2 linked regions of the Homo sapiens genome follow. The protein of the gene in region 1 purifies or fractionates together with the protein of each later gene. This does not show direct contact. Each region holds a gene or a part of one and is shown on either strand. Other genes may lie near its edges.

What was found.
Region 2: the proteins of CIMAP3 (region 1) and RAP2A purify together in Homo sapiens (affinity purification with mass spectrometry, with the first as the bait; one large-scale study listed by BioGRID). This does not show direct contact.

What each region holds. Positions count from the first base shown.
Region 1 is NC_000001.11:111,349,622-111,353,513, forward strand, and holds the end of CIMAP3 (ciliary microtubule-associated protein 3), read left to right. Parts: intron 1-484; coding exon 485-602; intron 603-1,637; coding exon 1,638-1,706; 3' UTR 1,707-3,392; downstream 3,393-3,892. UniProt on the Homo sapiens protein: During primary cilia disassembly, involved in cilia disassembly. Required specifically to control cilia retraction as well as the liberation and duplication of the basal body/centrosome.
Region 2 is NC_000013.11:97,461,390-97,465,433, forward strand, and holds part of RAP2A (ras-related protein Rap-2a), read left to right. Parts: intron 1-2,815; coding exon 2,816-3,053; 3' UTR 3,054-4,044. UniProt on the Homo sapiens protein: Small GTP-binding protein which cycles between a GDP-bound inactive and a GTP-bound active form. In its active form interacts with and regulates several effectors including MAP4K4, MINK1 and TNIK.

The sequences.
Region 1 (3,892 bases):
CCAAAAGACAAAGTGTATATGAACAAAGACAATTTTTAAATGACCCCATTGTCAAGAAAATTTAACTGGCTTTGCTTTGCTTTGCTTTGCCTACATTGCAGATAGATTATCACTGCACTTTTATCACCAACTTTAAATTGTGGGCAGTACTAATTCATCACTGCTTTAGATCTCTTTCATCACCCACCGCTTCTAGGACCTTCTCATCTCTCAGCTATAGATACTGAGGTACAGAAATATCTTTTAATCTGGAGTCGATCTGTGCTCTAACTGGATGTCAAGATTGTCAAGTTAGATGTTTAACGCTAACATCTAACTCGAAATACATTAACAGGTAAAGGAATCCCATGCTTAATTAAAAAGCTAATCAATCTGTTGCCTTTTTCCAAGAGGTTAGGCCTAGTCCAGGGACGGCTCTGGTACTGATGGAGTTTGTGTATGATCACTAACTCATTAGACATGATGCTTGTATTTTTATTTCTAGCCCTGGTGCATACAACCCAGAGAAGAAGCCACCGCCAAAAATTGCCTGGCCAATGAAATTTGGATCTCCAGACTGGGCTCAGGTTCCATGTCTACAGAAAAGAACCCTAAAAGCTGAGGTAATAAGATTGGAACTTCTGTAGAAGACTCTTATTCGATCTAGTACTTTCATAGGTATTAGGGACTCTTAATTAGGGGTCTGTGAATGAACTTCAGGAAGTCCTTGGTCCCAAAAAATTATATGCACAATTTTGTGTGTATATGAATCTGAGGAACTTTTTGGAGAATTACACTATTTCATTAGATTCTTAAAGGTATATATGACTAAACAAAAGTGACATTTTCTTATTTGATCCTTAAATAACTTTTGTGGTAGGTACAGAGGAAATATCCCTACACAATAGAGGCCCAGATGGATTAAGTGATTTGTGCAGGTTTCACTACTGGAATCTGGATCTTGTGACTCCTAATACATTGCTCTTTCCGACATACCCCTTGAGTACTAGATCACTGAGGAGCCATAGAGAATTCAGCTAAGAGCATGGATTATGGGGACAAAACTGCCTGGATTCAAATACTAGCTGCAGTATTTACTTGTGTAATCTTGAGCAAATCTTTTGACTTTTCTAAGCCTCAGTTTTTTAATCTGTAAAATGGGTATTAAAATAGAATCAATCCGATAAGGTTATAAAGAAAATGTGGAAAATCATTTAACACAGTACTTGATAACATAGTAATTGTTCAATCTGTTAGCTATCATAATTCCAGAGGTGCTTTTTTCTTTCCTAGTGGAACTTTTCATTAATTCTACAATTATTTATTAAATGCCAAATGTATTAACATTATTGCATTAGGGCCTATGGGCAACAACTCAAGAATTAAACATATAGTCCTTGACTTCAAGAAGCCCACCAACTGCTTGGGGATTTACTAAGTAGTAAATAATTCCTAGCATGGTATACACTATAGTAAGATGATAAAGGGTAGATGTACATACAAATTTTGGGAGAATCACTAAGGCTAGATTACTATGGAGTTGGGATTCACCTCTATAATGTACAGTTTTTTTTTTTTTTTTTTTTGCATAACTGGGAAGACCAGAGGCAGAGGGTTCTCATTAGAATATTGATCTAGAAAACGTTCTTTCATTGCAGCTGTCCACAGACAAAGACTTTAGAAAGCATCGGAACCGTGTGGCCTACCTAAGCCTGTATTATAATTGAGCGGCTGTAACTACCTTCACGTGCTCCTCTTATACACAGACTCTCCAGGACTGAGGACAGAGCTGCTCTTCTTCTTCTACGTTACTGTGGCCCTCTTGTCTGGCAGCCTGGAGCCCAGGGAGGGACAGGGGCTTATAGCTGCTGTATGAGAACATAAAGACTAGTGCACAGTGCTATCTCCATCTACTGACTTGTGGTGTACACGTGCATGTCTGGGTCTGTGGGTTTCTGTTGGGTGCTGAGTTGGGTGATTTCATTTTAGTGAAATATTTGTGGGCCCCTGCTCTCTAGTTCTAATTCCCAGGAGCCAATTTTATATATTCTACCACTAGCCCTGGTCATAGGAGGCTGTTAGCCTATACATGTCAAGGGTTTGGATGGGATTTGGGCTTGCTAGATACAGAAAACACTTAAGGCAGATTAAAACATGTATTGGAGCTCTCCCAATTGTGTTGCTCAGTGTGGAGTGGGAAGGTCTTGATTTGGTTGACTTTCCCAGATTGACATAAAACTCAAAAACCAAAAAATTGCCCCTTTCCTATGACATCATCCATTTAGTCTGTGAGTCAACATATATACTGAGGTCCTACTATGTGTTGAGCAGAGCAGTAAGCACTGGGGATATGGCAGGAATCAAAATAAACTTATCTACTAAGTCCTTGGGCCTGGCCTGAAGTCAGAGGAGGACTCCCCAGGGCAGCTAGGGGATTGGGTCTGCCCTCCAATCTGAATGACCCCCTAGAACCTTACAAGTCATTCTGGGGTTATAAAGATCATAACATTTATAGCCCCAGACTGACTTGTAAGCAGCTGCATTTAAAGTACTTACTCAGACACTCAGGCCTGAGAGATAGACCCCTTTCTTTCCAGCACTAGCTGAAATAATCAAGTATATAGTTTGTTCAGGATTGGCACTAAATGTGATTTAATCTTTTAATAAAAGGGTCCTTTTGTACCCACTTAGGCTTCTTCGTAATTACCAGAAAGGTGATAAGCCTGCATGTGTCTGGACACCAAAGATTGAGAAGCTGCCAGTGGCTGCAAGAGAGCCTACTGTAACCCTCATGGCCACCCCCTGATGAGTGTTACCTGGGGAAAGGGCTAGCAAGAGGTGAAGCCTCCTGGTCATATGATGCTGGGGGTGCCTAATTCCTTAAAGGCCAAGGTCTTCTGAAATAATAATGGTGAAGGACAGAAAAGTCTTTATGAGAAATCACATAGGATATATTAAGATAATGATAAAGATACCTCAGCAAGAACATACCTAATATATACACTTCTTTTAATCTGATGACTTAATGATTTCTGTTATCAAGAAGTATTTATGACTTGAGATAAGTCAGGATTAACTGTTATCACCTCTCCTGTACACCTCCCTCCTTTTTCTCCTTTGTACCCACATGTGCAGATTTTTTCAGAGGTGACAATTTAGCATTTAATGTTTTTTTTTCTGCTTCAAGTTCTTAGGTCCCTTTGGAGGATATTGATGGGGGTGGAGGTGGGGATAGAACATCTTTCACACTGTTTGGTACAGAGACGCTCAAAGCTTTTCCCAGGGAAAGGAACTCTCTAAAATAGTAATCTGATTTGATGAAAGATAAAATTTTAATATAGCTTCAGTTAACCTTCAGGATACTTTAAATGCTACATTGTATATAAAAGTAATAAAGTACAAATGAACACGAAGACTAAAACATACTGTGCCATATTTATTTTACATCTAGACTTGGTTCGAGGAGTTTATAGTATTTTTAGGTCTTAATAGAGTTAAGCTTTATTATAATGCAGTTTTAGTGGGGTAAAGCTTCCAAAGTGACAGATTTATATAATACGTAGACTACATGACATATTGGAGGATGTAGTTTGACATGCAGACAACAGAATCTATGACACTAGGATTTTATGAGTATGTTTAAGGCCAGTTGCAACACTTACAGTTCTGCTCCAACCTTGGGCATACTTGAGGTGAAAGGTATTGCCTTCCACACACCAGTAGAACTTGTTATTATCTTCAGGATTACTATAAATGCCATCTGCTTTACCACTACAGAAAGCTCTGTCTCCCCTATTGCCCCCATCACTGCCGCCTTCTCCATCACTTCCCCCATCACTGCCACCTTCTCTACCACGGCCACTGCCTCTGCCAATATTAGCACAGAAGCCTTCACTTCTGGGTGTCACAGGTC
Region 2 (4,044 bases), on another chromosome or scaffold:
GCCACTGACAAGTTAGTGATATAATAAACAGGTCCTCTGATACTGACTGCATTTTCATCTACATTTACCAGTTATTAAATGCTGTTATATGTGGAACTGTGTTTGCAATATTTTATTTACTGTTTTGAGAATTAGGTTGATGGTAAGATTTATTCAAATTCTTGATTTTAATAATGTATCAATACAACTTAATAATTTGATTTATTTGCAAGTTTTGAAAATCCACATATTCTAGTAGATCCTGAACTTAACTAAAAGTGTAAGAAATATTTCACATATAAAACATGATACAGGCTGGGTGCGGTGGCTCACGCCTGTAATCCCAGCACTTTGGGAGGCTGAGGCGGGCGGATCACGAGGTCAGGAGATCGAGACCATCCTAGCTAACACGATGAAACCCTGTCTCTACTAAATATACAAAAAATTAGTCGGGCGTGGTGGTGGGCGCCTGTAGTCCCAGGTACTCAGGAGACTGAGGCAAGAGAATGGCGTGAACCCGGGAGGCGGAGCTTGCAGTGAGCAAAGATCATGCCACTGCACTCCAGCCTGGGAGACAGAGCGAGACTCCGTCTCAAAAAAAAAATATATATATATATATATTTATATATTTATATTTATATATTTATATAGATATTTATATATTTATATATATTTATATATATATTTATATATATATTTATATATTATATATATTGTATTTAAACATTCTTTAAAATATTTATCATTTATCTCAACTAATAGAAAGTGATCTTATCACTTTTTATTATTCATAGACAGACTGAAATTTGTTTTAACTTAAATTCAACCAATGTTTTACTTAATTTTATTAATGTTTTTAAGTTACTCCACTGTCAAGCAAAGCATTTTAAAGTACACTGTGATGTATATACTTTCATAAGAAAAACGAAATGTAATTACATTTTGCAAGTAACACAAATTGGAAGCTGACATTGTCCTGACATGGCTGGCAGTGTCTGCTCCCTGCCAAGCTTCTCTGTATAGCCAATCAAGAGAGTTTATATGCAAAGTAGCAAATACATGGTGTTTTGTAATGCAGCTTTATTCTCACTGCCACTTGCCCTCCTAGAGGCCATGGGATGCACAAATTGTTTGTATGTAAGAGTCCTAGAAGATGTTAAAAACCCTTGTGTCTTATGTTCAGAGCTGTCAGCATGATCTAAGGCCCGAAATCGTAAGGTACAGTAGTGTACAGTAAATTTATATAAAGTCCTTTGATATAAATTGAAGTTGTCCAAATTCATTTCCTATAAAATGATAATATCCAAATTCTAGGTTTGCCTTTGATGTTGTTCCTTCCACTCATTTTTAAGTTGTTTTCATGTTTCACATTGCCAAATGGCACACTACCTGGAGTATGCCCTCTTGTTGAGACCATTCTTAGTTTGATATAGTGTCAAAGAAAAAAAGTGAGAATGTTGGGAATTTGGTTTGCTTTACAAGTTAGGATGAGTGGAGAGAACCCTCTTGACAGGATGAAGAAATCTGTGGAAGTATCATAGCGAACAATAACCACCTGCCTATTATCCAGTTTCCTGAATGATAAAAATTGTCTATGCATCCTGCCTCAAAGGCTTGACCATGGGGTGGTTTTCTCTTCTGACAGATTTAGCTGTTTCCAGTCACATTTGTTATCACTTTTGTGCGATCTTGCTGTTTAGCTCCTTTAAATCAGAAATACATTCTGCTTATGGGAAGACACACACACACAAACACACACACACACAGATTTATACTAAAATCACAAAAACCTTTTAAAATGTCTTGTGAAAATATATTAGCTATCTTTCTTAGAACAAACATAAAGAAGAATAGTAAATAAATGTGCAGTCCAGCACCAGTGTTGACATCTGTTGTGAAATGTGCTACATGGAGTAACCATTGTAGAGACAATCATCTTAGGCACCAAAATGACTTAGGAGCTTCTTTCTTTGTTCTTTCTTATCACTTACTATTTTTATTAGTTTAGCTTTTTCCAAACGTGTTTACTCAGAGATACCTATTTTAGTTAGGAAGAAAAAGAGAAATAACACCAATTAAAGCTAATTGAGGCTGAATTCTTGTCAGTCTTAAAAGAATCCTAATTGTTTCTCTTTGAACTGACTAATCCATAAAAGTTTTCTGAAGGGATGGGGTGTGGTTGTATTTGATAGCTTCCATTTGGATGATTTCTACTACCTTTTTTCTTGTTTGAGAACTATTAGAACGAACATGATCATTTTTTCAAGCTGGAGTGCGGTGGCACGATCTCAGCTCACTGCAACCTCTGCCTCCCAGGTTCAAGCGATTCTCCTGTCTCAGCCTCCCGAGTAGCTGGAACTACAGGCACCTGCCACCACACCCAGCTGATTTTTGTATGAACATGATCAATTTTATACACATAGAACATAGTAAAATGCTGATAATTATAAGTTGTTTGTTTACTCATTGTAGCTATTTACTGTGTGATCAACTGTGAAATTTTGTGCAACCCTCTCTCAGAATGGAAAAAAAAGAGGATTTAGTCTGAGTTTCTGAGAATAATTTTCCAAGTATATCTGGAAAGGTAAATTGATTTTAAAGGATATATAATTGATTAATTAAAACATCATTTCATAAAACTCATTTTATCATCCACTGTGAGAGCAGCTTCAAATGCCCTCAGATCTAAGTATCAAGCCAAGTGGTACAAATCATTTTCATGCAACTGAAGATACCATTTATGTTGGAATAGCCCCCAAAAACGAAAATACACGTGACCTGTTTAACTTTGTGCTAACTGTTACAATGTATGTGTGTTTTGTTTATTCTCTCATAGGTATGAGAAAGTGCCAGTCATCTTGGTTGGGAACAAAGTGGACCTGGAAAGTGAGAGAGAAGTATCGTCCAGCGAAGGCAGAGCCCTTGCTGAAGAGTGGGGCTGCCCCTTTATGGAAACTTCCGCTAAGAGTAAAACAATGGTGGACGAACTCTTTGCAGAAATTGTGAGGCAGATGAACTATGCTGCTCAGCCTGACAAAGATGACCCATGCTGTTCTGCATGTAACATACAATAGCATCCAAATATGGCTGTCCTGGATGGGATTTGCCCAATGTCGTAGGTGATAGAAAACTCGCCTACTCCACTGCAGAACTTGCAGAATGCGTGGTGTTAATCTACAGAGAACTGCAGCCCTTATTCAGAATTGAGCAGTGATTGTCAGTTGATATCTCTGAGTAACATTTGGGTTCAGTAACTACAGTTTTCACCATTTGTCCTCAGTCTCCTTTATGCATCTGCAACTTTAAGGCATAGTCCATCGATCTACAGGGTGATCTCATTTGAAAGCTATGATGGCATTGTCGCTGAGTTGACAGAAGCAACTATTGTACAAATTAAAAATAACCATAAGGGAGAAACCAGAAGAATTCCTCTGACCACTTACAATTAAAATATTTTGTCTTCTTTAAAAAAATAAGTAAAGGAGAAATATTTTCCTACAAGAGTACTGAATTTCAGGAAATGGGATAGAGCTTCTAACCAATGTATTCCGTCAAGTAAGATAATAACAGCTGACCTGCCAACAGCATTACAGGGAGATTCTTTGCTCAGCTAACACATTTCTGTTTTTCAAAATTGATGCTTAATTGTAGCTGTTATTCTAATTTGTGACATGGAACTAACTCATGCTTCAATCCTTGATAGAGCAAAACTCAGAACAGGTTATGTAAAAATATAGTCTGGCTTTAGAATTTGTTAATTCACCTGCTTTGCCACAGAAAATGGAGGCTTTCACAAGGGTTTGATCAGAATTAAAACCCCAAACCCGCCCTCTGTTAGGGGTGGTCTTTATAACTTTACTGAACAAGAGGGAAGCAACTGTGATGGGAAGAGATTACCTAGCCTTACTAACAAGAAGCATTCTAATAGATAAACTAGTACCATCATGTAAGGAAGATGAAGCCATGTTGCATCCACATGTTCCCGTTTGCAGAAACCTCACAGGACAGTACGAATATCTGGCATTTTTAAGTTCATTAAAGCAGCAAATTCCTTCTCGCCTTTAA